2 separate regions of the Homo sapiens genome follow, and region 1 is linked to region 2. Evidence: fine-mapped expression QTL. A gene starts in region 2. The other region holds a variant in brackets. All regions are shown on one strand. Distances are from middle to middle. Region 1 overlaps ZBTB40 (zinc finger and BTB domain containing 40). Region 2 holds the start of ZBTB40 (zinc finger and BTB domain containing 40).

What was found.
Region 1: its variant is fine-mapped to the expression of ZBTB40 in whole blood (TOPMed, PIP above 0.99).

The regions. Positions count from the first base shown.
Region 1 is chr1:22,480,117-22,488,403 of GRCh38, reverse strand. All of the region lies in intron 1 of ZBTB40 (zinc finger and BTB domain containing 40), which reads right to left. Among named protein-coding and RNA genes, the nearest start is that of ZBTB40, 32 kb to the right of the region's middle. The variant A/T (reference allele first, on the strand shown) is at 3,374.
Region 2 is chr1:22,448,792-22,457,074 of GRCh38, reverse strand. ZBTB40 (zinc finger and BTB domain containing 40) reads right to left here and starts at 5,224. Exons shown (of 18, transcript NM_014870.4): 1 at 5,071-5,224. RefSeq lists silencers at 4,741-4,830, 5,171-5,370, 5,685-5,979 and enhancers at 4,941-5,020, 4,734-5,295.

The sequences.
Region 1 (8,287 bases), 31 kb before region 2:
CCCCTCCAACCTCAGAACATCCCGCTCCTTCGTCTGCTTTGTTTTTCAGCATAGCACTTATCGCCTACTGACATACTATATTTTTATTTGTTATTATCTATCTTCCTTCACTAGAATGTAAGCTCCATTAGGGTAAGAACTTAATTTTATCACCTGCTGTATCCCAGTGCTTAAAATTCTGCTTAACACAAATACTGTTGATTACTTGGTAGAATGAATAAATAACTAAAAGGCAACATAATGATGGATTTGTACACACAAACACAGTTTGGGGGATAGGAGAGTCCAGGAGTTAGAGTAAAGCTTTGAGGGAAAAACAGCTGACCTGTGTCTTAAAAGATACGGACGCACAGATGAGGTAAAAAGAATGGGAGGAAAAGGCAATCCTGGCAGGGACGCCTGCATGAGGCATGCAGATAAGAAAACATCCCGTGGTAGCAGGCAGGAGGATTAGGAACTGAGATTATTACTGGAACATAAAGCAGGGAATAGGAGTGTTAAGAGATGAATCTGGAGAGGCAGGCAGGGGTGTTGGCCACAGAGGGATATATAGGCCATGCTTACGAGCTTGGAGGTTATCCTAAAAGCAATGAGCAGCCATTGAGGCATTTGAAAGGCTTTAAGCAGCAAAGTCATGTGGTCAGATATGCATTTTAAATATACCACCTAAGTAACATGTGTACAGAATTTGAGGGGGATAATGCTGGAGACGGGCTCTATTATTGCAGGAGATCAGGAGAAAATCAATGAGGGCTTCAAGCAGGAGAACTGGTAATAGGAGAGAGCCAAAAAAACATTGCAAAGTATAGCTGTCATGACTTAGGGACTGAATGGATGTGAAGGACAGAGAGAAACAATTCCCAGGTTCCTGGCTTGGTGAATGGGTGGATGATAAGATGATCCAGATAATACAAGAACAGACAGTTTAGGGGAAGAGACATCTAGTTCAGTTTTGGGTTTGAGGATCTTATCTTTGAGGATGTTTGAGGAAATTATGTAATCTCACTTGTAAAAGAAAAAAGTACGCTAAGAAAAGGGCGGAAAGACATATGTCAAAAAACCAGTAATTGCTTTTGTTAGAGGATTATGGATGATTCTCTTTCCACTCCACCATTTCTACATTTACTGACACTGAAATTGACAGATAAAAATATAAATAAAAATATTTCAGAGTTCCAGTTTCCATTCTGGTATGTCAGGAGCTTAGAAGTCACCACGTCCTAAAAGCAAACAGACTGAACAAACTGAAAAATCAACAACTCTTCTTTAATTCGTCAGAAAAGAAAGGTCACAGGGCAAATCACTGTTCCTAAAATTAGAGACAGACAGGCAGACACAGAGAATCACAACTTATTGAACAAAAAACACAAGCCAGGCGCAGCAGCTCACGCTTGTAATCCCAGCACTTTGGGAGGCTGAGGCGGGCGGATCACTTGAGGTCAGGAGTTCGAGACCAGCCTGGTCAACATGGCAAAACCTCGTCTCTACTAAAATTACACAAATTAGTCAGGCATGGTGGCGGGCACCTGGAACCCCAGCTATTCAGAGGCTGAGGCAGGAGAATAACTTGAACCTAGGAGGCAGAGGCTGCAGTGAGCCCAGATCATGCCACTGTACTCCAGCCTGGGCAACAGAGGGAGACTCCGTCTCAAAAAACAAAACAAAACAAAACAAAACAAAACAAAAAAAATGTATGAACAAACGCCTCTGTAGGAACAAGTGCCAGGTTAAGAAAACCTGAACTGCAATCGAATCACTGGAGGCTCAGTGTGCACAACTCTGAGAGTTAAAAACTCTGGGGGGGACTCAGTCATAGGGGTCCCCCAACACTTCTGTGAGCTTTACCTCCTAGAGCTCTAACAAGTCCTCACAACGAATAGTGAAGAAAAATCCCCTCTTGCTTCCAGCAGCGGGAGAGGGAAAAGGAACCATTTTGAAATCTGCCAGAGCACTCTGTTTTTAACAAGGCCTGCCTTCAAGAAAACTATTTTACAAGAGCCTAACTGGCTACAGTTTTCTCAGAGCCTAACCTACCTGGAAAAAAACAAATACCCAACTCCAGCTCCCTCTAGCCATCCTGTACCATCTAAGGAGCAAAAAAGCCTGAGAGCACTTGGGAAGTTCACAGCCCAGGGGCACAAGCTCACCAAAAGATTGAGACTGAATCCCAGGACTACAGAAAGCTTCTCCTCCCCTGCACCCTACTACCACATCACTAAAGGCCTAGCTATAGCAGTTCCTTTTATGCAGTACATCATGTCCACCTTTCAACAAAAAATTACAAGGCATACTAAAAGACAAACAAACAGACAAAACCCAAAAACAGTTTGGAGAGACAGAGCAAACTTCAAAACCAGACTCAGATATAGCAAGAATGTCCGAATTAGCACACCAGGATTTTTTTTTTTTAAGACTATGATTAAATAGCCAGGGGCTTTAATGGAAAAAGTACAAAACATGTAAGAATAGATGGATAATGTAAGCAGAGAAATGGAAATTCTAAGAAAGAATCAAAAAGAAATGCTAGAGATAAAAAACACCATAACAGAAATGAAGACTGCCTTTGATGAGCTCATTAGTAGACTGGACACGACTGAGGAAAGAATCTCCTAGCTTGAAGACGTAACAATCCAAAACGAAAAAGCAAAGTAAAAAAAGAAGAAGAAAACAGAACAGAATATCTAACAGTGGGAAGACTAGAAAAGAAATAACTAATGCAAAATGGGGACACCAGAAGGGGAAGAGAGAAAAGCAGCAATATTTGATGCAATAATGACTGAGAATTTCCCCAAATTAATGACAGACACCACATCACAGATCCAGGAAACTCAAGACATTGAGCCTAGGCATATAGTTTTCAAATGTCAGAAAATCAAAGATGGCCATGGTAACAAAGAAAAAAAAATAGACAATACAATTTATTAATATCAGTATCACTGTATACCCCATATACATTAAAAATATAAGGTAATTTATGAATGTCCACAAATATAACCTAAATAAAATGATCCAATTCCTTGAACGATGCAATCTGTCAAAACTCACACACGCAGCAATAGACTATCTGAATAGGCCTATATCTATTAAAGTAGGTGAATCAACAATAACCTCCCCAAAGTGGAAGCAACAGCCCCAGATGTGTTCACTAATGAGTTCCACCCAATATTTAAGAAAGAAATTATACCAATTCTCTACAAACTCTTCCAGAAGATAGAAGCAGAGGGAATATTTCCCAACTCATTCTTTGAGGCCAACATTAACCCTCTACCAAAACCACACAGAGACATTACAAGAAAAGAAAACCACAGACCAGTATCTCTCGTTAAGATAGATGCAAAAATCCTCAACAAAATATTAGCAACTTGACTCTAAC[A/T]ATGCCTAAAGAGAATTATACATCATAGCCAAATGGGACTTCTCACAGGTATGCAAGGCTGGTTCAACATTCAAAATCAATTAATGTGATCCATCGCATCAACAGGCTAAAGAAGAAAAATCATGTGAACATGTCAACAGAAAGCTGCAGAAAAAGCATCTGGCAGAAATCCAATGCCCATTCATGATAAAAACTCCAACAAACTAGAAATAGAGGGGAACTGCCTCAACTTCATAAAGAACATCTACAAAAAACCTACAGCTGGCATCACTCATAATGGTGAGAAACTCAAAGTCTTCCTGCTGGGATTATAAACAAGGCTGGGATATCCCAGTTCACCACTGATCTTAAACACTGTACTGGAAGTCCTAGCTAATGCAACAAGACAAGAAAAGGAAATAGAAGGTATACTGATTGGGAAGGAAGTTAAAACTGTCTTTGTTTGCAGACTACATGATTGTCTTTACAGAAAATTAAAGAGAAATGACAAAAAACCTCCTGGAACTAATAAGAGATTATAACAAAGTTGTAAGACATAAGGTTAATATACAAAAGCCAATTGTTTTCCTATATACCAGCAATAAGGTAGAATTTGAAATTAAAAACTTTACCATTTACACTAGCACCCCAAAAAGAGAAATACTTAGGTATAAATCTAACAAAATATGTACAAGATCTATATGAAGAAAACAACAAAACTCTGATGAAAGATATCAAAGAACTTTAAAAATGGAGAGATATCCCATGTTGTTAGATAGAAATATTCAATATTTTCAGAGACTCAGATCTTCCCCATGACCAAAATAGCTAACTCAATATTGAAGGAGAAGACTGAAGTTGGAGGACTGATAATGACTTCAACATTTACTATTTTAAAGCTACAATAATGAAGACAATGTGGTATTGGTGAAAGAATAGACAAGTAGACCAGTGGAACAGAACAGAAAGCCCAGAAACAGACCCACACAAATATAGTCAATTCATCTTTGACAAAGGAGCAAAGGCACTAAAATGAAGCAAAGAGTATCTTTTCAACAAGTGATGCTGGAACCAACTGGACATTCACATACGAAAAAATGAATCTAGACATAGACCTTACACCCTTCACAAAAATTAACTTAAAATACATCAGAGACCTATATGTAAAATACAAAATTATAATTCCTAGAAGTTAACATAGGAGAAAACTTAGTTGACTTTGGCTATGGCAGTCTTTTTAGGTACAACACCAAAGGCACAATCCATGACAGAAATAAATTTTGCTCCATGAAAGACAATGTCAAAAGAATGAAAAGACAAGCCACAGACTGGGAGAAAATATTTGCAAAAAACACACCTGATAAAAGACTATTATCCAAAATACACAAAGAACTCTCAAAACTCAACAATAAGAAAACAACCCAATTAAAAAATAGCAGAAGACCTGAACAGACACCTCATCAAAGAAGATATGCAGATGACAAATAAGCAAATGAAAAGATGTTGTACATGGTATGTCTTTAGAGAATTGCAAATTAAAACAAGATACCATCACACACCTATCAGAATGACCAAAATCCAAAACACAGGGAATACTAAATGCTGACGAGGATGTAGAGAAACAGGAACTTTCATTCAATGCCGGTGGGAATGCAAAATAGTACAGACATTCTACAGATTAACAGTTTCTTACAAAACCAAACATACTCTTGCCACATGATCTAGTAATCACATTCCTTGGTAATTAACCAAAGGGGTTGAAGACTTATGGCCACACAAAAGCCTACACATGATACTTATAAAGCAGCTTTATTCATAATTGCCAAAATTTGGAAGCAACCAAGAAGTAGATATAATGAATAAACTGTGGTACATCCAGACAATGGACTAAAAAGTGCTAAAAAGATATGAGACATAAAGCCATGAAAAGACAGGGAGGAAACTTAAATGCATATTTCTTTTTTTTTTTTTTTGAGACGGAGTCCTGCTCTGTCGCCCGGGCTGGAGTGCAGTGGCGTGATCTCGGCTCACTGCAAGCTCTGCCTCCCGGGTTCACACCATTCTCCTGCCTCAGCCTCCCGAGTAGCTAGGACTACAGGCGCCCGCCACCACGCCTGGCTAATTTTTTTGTATTTTTAGTAGAGACCGGGTTTCACTGTGTTAGCCAGGATGGTCTCGATCTCCTGACCTCGTGATCCACCTGCCTCGGCCTCCCAAAGTGCTGGGATTACAGATTACAGGCGTGAGCCACCGCACCCGGCCTTAAATGCATATTTCTAAGTGAAAGAAGTCAATCTGAAAATGCTACATACTTTATAATTCCAAATATATGACGTTCTGGAAAAGGTAAATATATAGATAGTAAAAAAGACCAGTGATCGCCAGGGGTTAGAGGAGAGGGAGGGATGAATAAGCAAAGCACAGAGGATTTTTAGGGCAGTGAAATTATTCTTCATGAATCTACAATGGCAAATATAAGTCATTATACATTTGTCAAAACCCACAGAATGCACAACACCAACAGTGAACCCTGATGTAAACTATGGACTCCGGGTAAGAATTATGTGTCAATGTAGGTTCATCAATTATAAGAAATGTACCAATATGGTGTGAGACATGGATGGTGGGACAGGTTGTGCATGTGTGGAGAATGGGAGTGGGGAGGGATCTGCAAACCCTCTGTAATTTCCGCTTAATTTTGCATGTACCTCAAACTGCTCTAAAAAAATAGTTTATTAATTAAAATAAAGATTTGCTGAAATAAATATAAATGTTTCAGTTCTAACTACCCCAAGCCCCTTCTATACCATGTACCTAATATTGTTGGGCATTCATGAATTCATATGATTGTTTTCAGCTTGCTCAAAGAAAATCTTTAAGAATGTCTACCCCTACTTTTTGAATACAGTCTGTTTTAATCTATATTATAAAAATGCACATATATTTTTAAACAAATGAAGAACAGTCCTAGGAGGTAAGTGGCTTTTATCTAATAGAAGTAGCTCTAGTAGGCGACTGGAATTTTTATCTCTTGGTGTTTTATGGAAAGAGGAGGGGAAAATTCCATAAGATTTAAAACTAGAAAAACATTTTTTTCTAGTTTTAATATTTAAATAAATATTTAAATTAATATTTGAGAAAAATCTGAACAAGAATTCAATTTGCAAATAACAAAAGACCATAAACAGGCACTGATGAGGTTTTTCTAAGAAACAAATTACACCAATGTAATGTGATTTTTTTTTTTTTTTTTTTTTTTTTTTTGGTAAAACAAGACATAAGTCTTACGGATTACAGTAAACCAAAAGACTTACCTGGACATACATTAGATCTTTTTAAACATTCTTATTAGTAAGAAACAAGTGACTGGAATTATATTTTCGGGATAGACTCAAACTTAAAAGGTTGCTTTTAAGTTTCTGGGGAGGGTACCCACATCAGATTAAACAAGAGAAGATTCACCCAAGATGCAGAGGGAGATATTTCAAGCATTATGTGGTCAGAGCTATTTAATGTTTTTGTGAACAACTAAATAAGAAGAGAAAAAGAAAAACTTCAGCAGAATGAGCAACTGGGCAAGGTTAAAAAGAAAACTGAACCTAATTATCTGGCTTACCAATATATAGATACTAAAAAGGTGATTATAAGCTTGAGCAATGAAAGGAAAATGGGAACCGTTAAGGCCTAAAACATTCAAGGGTGGTCAATGGCTACATAATGAATCTAAGTTGGCAATGTCTAAAATTGAAAATTTACTGAGATTAATGCAATAATAATTAAAAAACAGACTTTTGGCAAAATGGCACACTGAGCTGAAGTAAATGGCTCTTTTTCTCCCACTACAAATACACAGAAATGCTGGATAAAACATAAAAATGCTTTTAAAATACATAGGCTTGAAAAAAAATTAAAGAAAAGAAATCCCTAGGTACCTGAAATGAAAGAAACATCAAAATCAAAGCTAGAACAGTAAGTGGGAATTGAGACCATGGTGGCCTACAGGGGTTTCAAACTCCTGTACAGGCCCTAAGCTGGGAGGAGGAAGCATTAATACTCACATGGAGACTGCAAATGTAGCTTCAGGCAGGTAGAAGGTGGGGAGTTAGCACTGAGACCCTTGCATAAAGCCCAGAGCCTCAAATGCTGATCCTTCCTTGATATGCAGTCTCAAAAATCTGCTCACTGGCTCAGGGAAACAGCAATAAAAGTTGCTTATTATCTAGGCCATCAGCAGGAAAAAAGGTAAAATGCATGTCTATGCCATACAGAGGTATAGCATCCAAATTTATACTCTGTATCATACAGGAATCTCAAGTCAAGAAATTAACATAAAAACTGGTCTCTAGCATGCAGCAGAAAAAACACAGGGACTCACATAGAGAAAAAGAAAAACACAGAAAAGGGCAGGGCGCGGTGGCTCACGCCTGTAATCCCAGCACTTTGGGAGGCCGAGGCGGGCAGATCACGAGGTCAGGAGATCGAGACCATCCTGGCTAACACGATGAAACCCCGTCTCTACTAAAAATACAAAAAACGACAACAACAACAACAACGACACAGAAAAGAAGCTCATAATTACAAACCACATGAGGAAGACCTGGATGTGAAAAGTAAATCTATAAAAGCTAATAGCAGAAAATGTCAGAGGGGACCTTTGAAACAGAAGGCAAAGACTTCTGAAACAATGCCCCGAAAGCTGAAAAAAGAAAATAAATTTGACTGTATAGGTATTAAAGGTTTCTGTCAAAGGATAATAGAGACAGATGGACAAATGACAGAAATGGCAGATATTTGCAAAGTTTAAAGGCAATAAGGAATTGATATCTAGAATATATAAGAAATTCCTGGCTGGGCGCAGTGGCTCACGCCTGTAATCCCAGCACTTTGGGAGGCCGAGGCAGGTGGATCACTCGAGGTCAGGAGTTCGAGACCAGC
Region 2 (8,283 bases):
AGCCTCAACTCCTGGGCTTGCATAAGTGATCCTCCTGCCTCAGCCTCCCAGAGTGCTGGGATCACAGGCATGAGCCACTGTGCCCAGCCTTCTTTCCCTTTTAACCCAGCCTTCGTTAAGTCTGAGGAACTGACTCCATCTGCAAGAAGCTGATGCCTAGAAACAAAGCAGTGAGCTTCCACTACCTCCTCCTTTCCTCTATCAGTAGAAACAGTTATGATATCTGCTAACGAGGTTGCCTAGACAATAGGTCCACATCTCACCAGTCTCATGTAAATTAACAACAACCATCTGTAAGGCATTTATGAAGCAGTTCAATGGGCAGATATCTATGTTACACAAACATTCAACTATGCTTGACCACTTTAGACAGAAAACAAAGCCTGAAAAGACTTAAAATCTGAGATTAAGGTTACAGAGCAGTGAAACAGTACCTGGTTTCAGGGGAGATTCTCATCGCGCCTTCAGTTAGGTGATGTTACATGTGATGTTTCATTGTTGGTTCTGCACCTTTTAAAGGGTCAAGGGCCTTTCTGAGATCAGATTAAAGTAACTGGCTCTCTCCCCAGAAAAAATGACATTCACACAAATTTGCAGGCAACTTCAAAGGATTCATGGGTCTCTTGAAATTCAACCATTTACCCTGAGATTAACAATCTCTGACTTACATGGATCAGCATAATACATTTATGTAAGGAAATGAAATACGTGGCATCATAATTTTGAGGATTTGGAGTTAAATAACAACATTAGGGAAATGTAAGGAAAGCTGGCTTTCTTTCCTTATCCTTCTCTCTCGAGGGCTGCCAGAGTCTCAAAACTGCATGCTCCCTGCAAATGAAATACTGCACTCTCTGCTAGACTTACAGAAAGTGACAATCTCATCTCTCAATTTAAATGCCCTTAATATTTAATTCTTTCCTCTATGTGGTTAGTAGCTTGCTTTCTCCACATTATCCAGATGATGGCTTTGGAAGGCAGACTATTGGAGATCCAGAAAACCATATATCCCAATTCAATTTCCTTGTGAAAATCAAAGAGCTCACTCTGCTGAAGAGTTGAAAGAGGCTGAGGGGTCACTGCCTTCCCTCAGGGTGCTGGTTCAGGCAGTACTCGAGAAGGGTAATGTAAATACTCAGTACGAGGCAACAGGGCATACTAATTTGTTTTTCAATCTATTTTATTTCAGTTCAAAGCATCATTGCAGACAGATAGTCCAAGAAAACAAGCCACACTTGGGTTATACTCAGTCTTCCTCAATCTCCAAAAGCAGGTGAGTGTTGCCAAAGTGTGGCTCGTTTTCCGGGGCTGCCTGTCTGCAATGATGCTTTGAACTGAAATAAAATAGACTGAAAAACAAACTGGTATGCCCTGGCTCTTCTTGCAGTTTCATACTATCCTTCAAAGCTAGTGTTAGCACCTGCTCTTTACTGGAACCCAACAGACCCAAATCACAGAGTAAAACTGCAATACTTTAGATGCAAAGGTCCCACCCAAACCTAAAATAGCAATTTAATTCAGGGCTTGTTGTTTAACATTGCATTAAATGACACTCTCTGTCCAGTTCTTTGCTCCGTTTGCAGGGTTAGAATGTGTCTTCTGATGACATGTGCAATATGGTTACTAGGGAGAGTTTAAAGCGAAACCTGCCATGCTGTTCTTCTTACATAGTTCCCTTGATTTATTATTGCTTCTAATTTCTTACATTTATGAACCCGAACATTATCCTATTTTTACTTAGTCAAAAAGCCTGCCATTTGCCTCAAAGCATTCAATACTGTTTTAGAGTATGTGACATTATTTTGAAAACTTTTGGAGGAAACTTGAAATCATGCACAAACAAATTTTTAAATCGCCACCAACTAAAAGTCTAACATTTGTTTAGAATGCCTTAAGAGAATACATACACCTTTGATGGAGGAACATAAGTAGTTTCCAACTTAAAACACTAAAATGCTGAAAAGTGTTCTGCATAGACAGCTGTACAATTTGGCTTTAAAAAAATTAGATGCCATTTGGAAAAGTTCCTCTCCAAGCAGAAACACTAAGAAAAAACAAGATCTGCTCCCCTCTTTCTGGAGATAGAAAGTAGAGGGCTTCTATTTTTAATTGGATTCCCCCATTCTTAATTTTGTCTGTAATGTATTTCTGGATTTTTGTTATTAGTTAGCACTTTATAAAGTTTCCATTTGGAGCTAAATTTGGTTATTCAGCAATATGTGTAACAACAACAAAAAGAAAATACCATAGCTATGAATACAGTTTCTCTTATTTAATCTGCACAACCCTTTGAGGAGGCACCATTATCCACATTTTCCAGGTCAGATAACTAATCTGTAACTTGCCCTTGGGCGTGCAGTTCTCTCAGTAGTAGCTGGGTTCACGGCCAGGGACTGAGCACAGGAGTGAACCACAGCACAGTGACTCCCTTTGAGTTCTCCAACATCTCACGTTGTTACCCACCTTAGTCTCTGAACCTGCTGAAAAGTTCTTCCTCCCAGCTTCGTCTCTCCCTTTCCCCTTCTTGCTAGACTGGTTCCTTGTCACTCAACAAGTTTCAGCTTAAACTGCCTTTCTTAAGAGAGGTTTTCCCTGACCACCCAGATAAAAAGTGAGTCTCCCAGGTTAGTGTCTCTCTCCGTGCTGTTTTATTTCCTTTAGAGCAGTTGCCACAATTTGGAATAACTTTGTTATTTCTTTACTGTCTTGACACTAGGCTTTAGCTTCCAGAACAGAGCCCCAGGTCCATCTTGCTCACCCTGGTAATCACAGGACCTAGACAGTGGTGCTTGGTACATGGAGACACTAAAATATTTGTTCGAGGCCGGGCGCGATGGCTCACGCCTATAATCCCAGCACTTTGGGAGGCTGAGGCGGGCAGATCACTTGAGGTCAAGACTTCAAGACCAGCCTGAACAACATGGTGAAACTCTGTCTCTACTAAAAACACACAAAAAATTAGCCGGGTGTCGTGGCACATGCCTGTAGTCCCAGCCATTCAGGAGGTTGAGGCAGAAGAATCACTTGAACCCGGGAGGCGGAGGTTGCAGTGAGCCGAGATTGTGCCACTGCACTCCAGCCTGGGCAACACAGCGAGACTCTGTCTCAAAAAAATAAATAAAATAAAATAAAATAAAAATTTGTTCAATGAATGACCTAGATTTGTTTACTTGGTATTTACCTGCAAACACCAGGTTGTGGGTACTGGCTAGCAGCTGAGGATAACAACAGTAAGGTGTGGTCCCTGCCCTTAAGGACCTCCTAAGCTAGTAGGAAAGACAATAAACAGATGGAACAATACAGGGTGTTCAGTGTGATCAGATTAGCTTCAGCTCTCAGCTGAATGCCTTAGCTATGTAACCTCGAACATCTCTCCGACGTGAGTTTGTTTCCTCTATGCGTAAAATGGTAATATTAATACTACTTATGTCATAGTATTGGTGTGAGGATTAAGTGATAGTCCATATAAATAAAGCACTTAGCACAGTACCTGGCACAAAATAATCACTCAGTAAATAGCAACTAATAATTTTATTATGATGATGCTATTACAGCTGTATTTGAAATTATCTTTGTCTACCTGTATACCACTTGTCCAAGCCCCACATAGAATTTAAATTCCATGGAAGGGCAGAAATCATATTTGTCTTGTTCACCACTGTATTTCCAGGAATTTGAAACGTCTCTGGTACACAGTAAGTGCTCAACAAACACTAAATGATTAATGAATGCATGCGTACATGCATGGGGTGTTCTGAAACCATTTGTTAAACCACTAATGAATAGCTAAGTTTGGGGACTACTGACATAGAAGAAAAGTGTTTATATTAGAAAGGAGGGGCAGAAGTTTGATGATTTAGCTAAGTAGAAAAAAATTTCACTGAGATTGTAATTAAATCTCCATTAACCATACAAAGATCTGGGTACAATTCCAGGGAAGAACAAACAATTCCAGGTAGAAAAGACTTGAAAGAATAAAATCCAAAGCAGTTTGACCGGTGCCATCAGGCAGGGGGCTCCCAGGGACAGGCTCAATTTGGCAGCCCTATAACCTAGTACACCTATACATATATTAACCACTCAGAACAAATTTCTTCCTCGTTTGTAAAATGGAAATACCATACTTACTTATAAAGCGTCGTCATAAAGTAGAACAACACTTGTATGAATATAAATAAAGCACCTGGTTCATTGCAGCACTGGCTGCATGGTACCAACGCTATTCAAAGCAGGAGAAACTCTGAATAGTCAGTAAGACCAGAAGGGAAGCCAGAGTGTTCTGTCAACTAAAGTGCTCTCGGTGCATCGCGCAGTTTTAACTCTTTTCCCACTCCAGAAGAACCGACGAGAGGAATAGCTGAATGACAACACTGATCCAATCTCCTTGTGTTTAGGGCAGGGGTCAGTAAACTTTTGCTGTAAGGGACCAGACAGAAATATTTCTGGCTTTGTGAGCCAGCCGATCAAAGCCAAGCAACGGCTGCGCAACTACTCAGCTCTGCCCTCTTGGCAGGAAAGCAGCCATAGACAATACATCAACAATGAACAGGGCCGTGTTCCAATAAAACTTCATTTATGGACTTGATTTCATAGAACTTTCGCAAATTACATGAAATATTCTTCCCCCTAACCATTTGCAACTGTAAACAAAGACCGAGAGGGGAAGAGAGAAGGGGGGCATGGATTAGGCCCAAGGCCATAGTCCGCTGACGCCCGGCGAAGGGACCTGAAGGGAGGGGGAGTGAGACAGCGACAAGAGGCCTCCGGACGGGCCGAGAGGGAGGTGCGGGGCGACAGCGAGCCCCAGGCGGTGTCAGGTCGGGCCTGGCGCCCTGAGTGGGTCCCCGCGGTCTCTCCCCTCCGCAGTCTACAGCAGAGCCGGCGCCAGGGGTGCGGACCGCCCCTGGAGGGGGCACGTCCGGGGTGTAGGTGAGGCGGCCGTGATTCGGCCGAGTCCCGCGGAGTTCGCCACGCGGAAGGGTCTGTATACACCCCTCATTTAGGGCGCACCCGGGCCCCCGCTGCAGGAAGGGTCTCCACGCGGAGTCCCAGCCCCGTTTCTATGGTTACCTGTTCAGCACCGATTCAAACTGCCGTTCTTTATTGACAGCGCCATAGAGGACACGAACACTCCTGCCCGAAGGGAACAATAAAGCTTTCGCCATTCAACAGCGCCGGAGACGCCAGAAGGCGGCCATCTTGAGGCCGGCGCGCAATGGGTATCAGAGGGGAGGGGGCGGCCCGACCTGCCCCACGCGCCGCGGTCACGTGCTGGGGGCGGGGCCTGCGTCACGCGCTCGCTCTCCACCTATGCTAGGACGGCGGGGGCCGGCTGGTTGCTAGGCTCTTCTCTGACCTCTGACCTTGGCCACTCCCTCCTTCCCTCCCCACACTTCCTAAGTAAAGTTTTTTTCTTTTTTTTTTTTTTGAGATGGGAGATTCGCTCTTGTTTCCCAGGCTGGAGTGTAGCGGCGCGATCTCGCCCCACTGCAGCCTCCGCCTTCCAGGTTCAAGCGATTCTCCTGCCTCAGCCTCCCGAGTAGCTGGGATTACAGGCGCGCGCCACCACGCCCTGCTAATTTTTTTTTTCTCTTCTATTTTTAGTAGAGACAGGATGTCACCATGTTGGCCAGGCTGGTCCCGAACTCCTGAGCCCAGATGATCCACCTGCCTCGGCCTCCCACCATGCCCGGCCCTAAGGAAAGTTCTAATGGAGCTCCGCAGTCTCGCTCCGGCAGCTCTAGGATTAGGATTTTGTTTCAAAGGAGGGCAAGGAAGTGAACACAAAAGGCTTCGTTTTTCCAAAACAACACATTCACGTGCGAGGCGGAGAGGCGACCTGAGCCGCGTCCCCAGCCCGCACTCTTTGTGGGACAGGCTTGGCGCTGGTGGGGCGCAGTGGGCTGAAGGCATCCTGGAGGCATCCTGATCCTGCCTCTCGCACCTCCCAATTTTGGGATTTAGGGGCTTTGGGATTTAGTCCTAGCTTTTCTTTTGCTCATTTTCCTTCTCACACACTATGCGTTCCCTGTTGAAGCGTCCCCTTGCCACCCTTCCTTACACAAACATTTAAATCAGATCCAGCAGTAACAAACTGAGTCACCTCCGCGCTGGCCCACTGAACACAGTCACCCTGTCACTGACATGCAGCCACTTTTTCTGTCCCTGACAGTTACGTGCCCAAATCCAGCCATCTTAGTGCAATGTCCAGCTTCCTCTGTGGTTATACCTTTTCCATCTGCAATGTCAATATTCAGTCGTTCTGAGAGCTGTCTCTGGCTGACTGACTCACCCCATCACCGTTTTACATCACAAATTCAATCTACTGGGCAGAACTGTCACTTGCATTGTTGCTGTCTCCCGGTCGATCATATTTACTGTCACTGTCTGACATGCAGCTACCGTCATTGACCATAAACTTCAAACGGTTCTGTTCAAAATAGCACTTTGTTTGCCCAGCTGTTGCCCTTTCTGTTGTTTTCACTGTCATTGTCATGCAGCCACTTTTGCTGCCACACAGTCAAGCCAGTATTTAACAGGCCCCTTCAGGGTACACTGTTGTCCTCATACCCTTGTGCCCAGTTAGTCACTTTCACTATTATACTCATGTCACCGTTACATTCAGGGTCGGATTTACTGTAGCTGTTATTTAGTCACTTTTGTAGTAACTGGAACCACGCCTACAGCTGTTGTGTCTCCTAAGCCCTCATTTCCACCAGCCTCACATTCTCTTTTAGTGGGAACATAGGGTTGCTAGATTTAGCAAACAAACACCTAGAAGGGTGCTTGGCACATAGTAGGTGCTCTAGAAATATTTATCGAGTTAATGGGATTACAGGTGTGAGCCACTGGGCATTTTGGGAGCATTTTGGGAGGCCGAGGCAGGCGGATCACCTGAGGTCAGGAGTTCGAGACCAGCCTGGCCAACATGGTGAAACCCCCGTCTCTACTAAAAATAGAAAAATTACCTGGGCATGGTGGCAGGTGCCTGTAATCCCAGTTACTCAGGATGCTGAGGCAGGAGAATCGCTTGAACCTGGGAGGCGGAGGTTGGAGTGAGCTGAGATCACGCCACTGCACTCCAGCCTGGGCAACGAGAGCGAGACTCCGTCTCAAAAAAAAAAAAAAGAGAAATATTTATCGAATTAATGGATTTTAAAAAACAGTATCATTGCCAATGTGCTGTATGTGAATGCAGATGGCTTGAAGCTCAGGAGTCTCAATAGGAATAAGTTTTCAGGCACCATCTGTCCCTCCTGTTCCACTTAACAAGACTTCAAATCCTATAGGGACTAAACGAAGAGAGCAAAAGAAAAGTGGCCACCAAGTGTACTCAGTTATTGGGACAGCAGTGACAAAGAAGAGGCTTTCTATAACTTTTTTTAAATGAATACATGCTTATTATAAAATATTTAGGAAATATGGAAAGGAATCTTTCCCTGGGGGGATTGTTTTAGACATCTCCCAACACACCCCACACATGTATCCACAGTCAGTGGATCAGTGGCTGCAGTTTCCCCATCACCATTTACTTAAGGTTTTGCATTAACAGAAGTTCTCATGGGGCTGACTTGCCTACAGTTCATGAACAACGACATACTGTCATGGAGAGCAATGGCTCTGGCTTCTGGCTGGTCATGATATGGAAGAATAAGAAGACAATGGCTAGACCTTCTAGACCTTGTAAGGGCCTCATCTCCCCACAGAGCTTCGACAGCTGCGGAGAAATAACCTGTGCTTCCCGATCACCAGAAGGACCCAAACCTTGACTTTGAGGGGGAGGGTTGAGAACTTTTCAACTTTTTTTCTACTTTAGAAAAGAGTGTTCCCATGCCACCACCCAGTGTAAGATGCCCGAGGTGCCTCTGCTAAACTGCCAGCTGTTTCCAGAGTGACTACTATATGCCAAGAACACTGAGGTCAACAAAACATGTTCCTGGCCGTAGTAAGAAATAACAACCGGCCGGCTGCGGTGGCTCACACCTGTAATCCCAGCACTTTGGGAGGCCGAGGCAGGCGGATCATGAGGTCAGGAGTTCAAGACCAGCCTGGCCAACATGGTGAAACCCCATCTCTACTAAAAATACAAAAAAAATTAGTTGGGCATGGTGGTGCTGGCTTGTAATCCCAGCTACTCAGGAGGCTGAGGCAAGAGAATTGCTTGAACCTGGGAGGCAGAGGTTGCAGTGAGCCGAAATCACGCCACTGCACTGCAGTCTGGATGACGGGGCAAGACTGTCTCAAAAAAAAAAAATTTAAAAAGAAAAAAAGAAATAACACAAC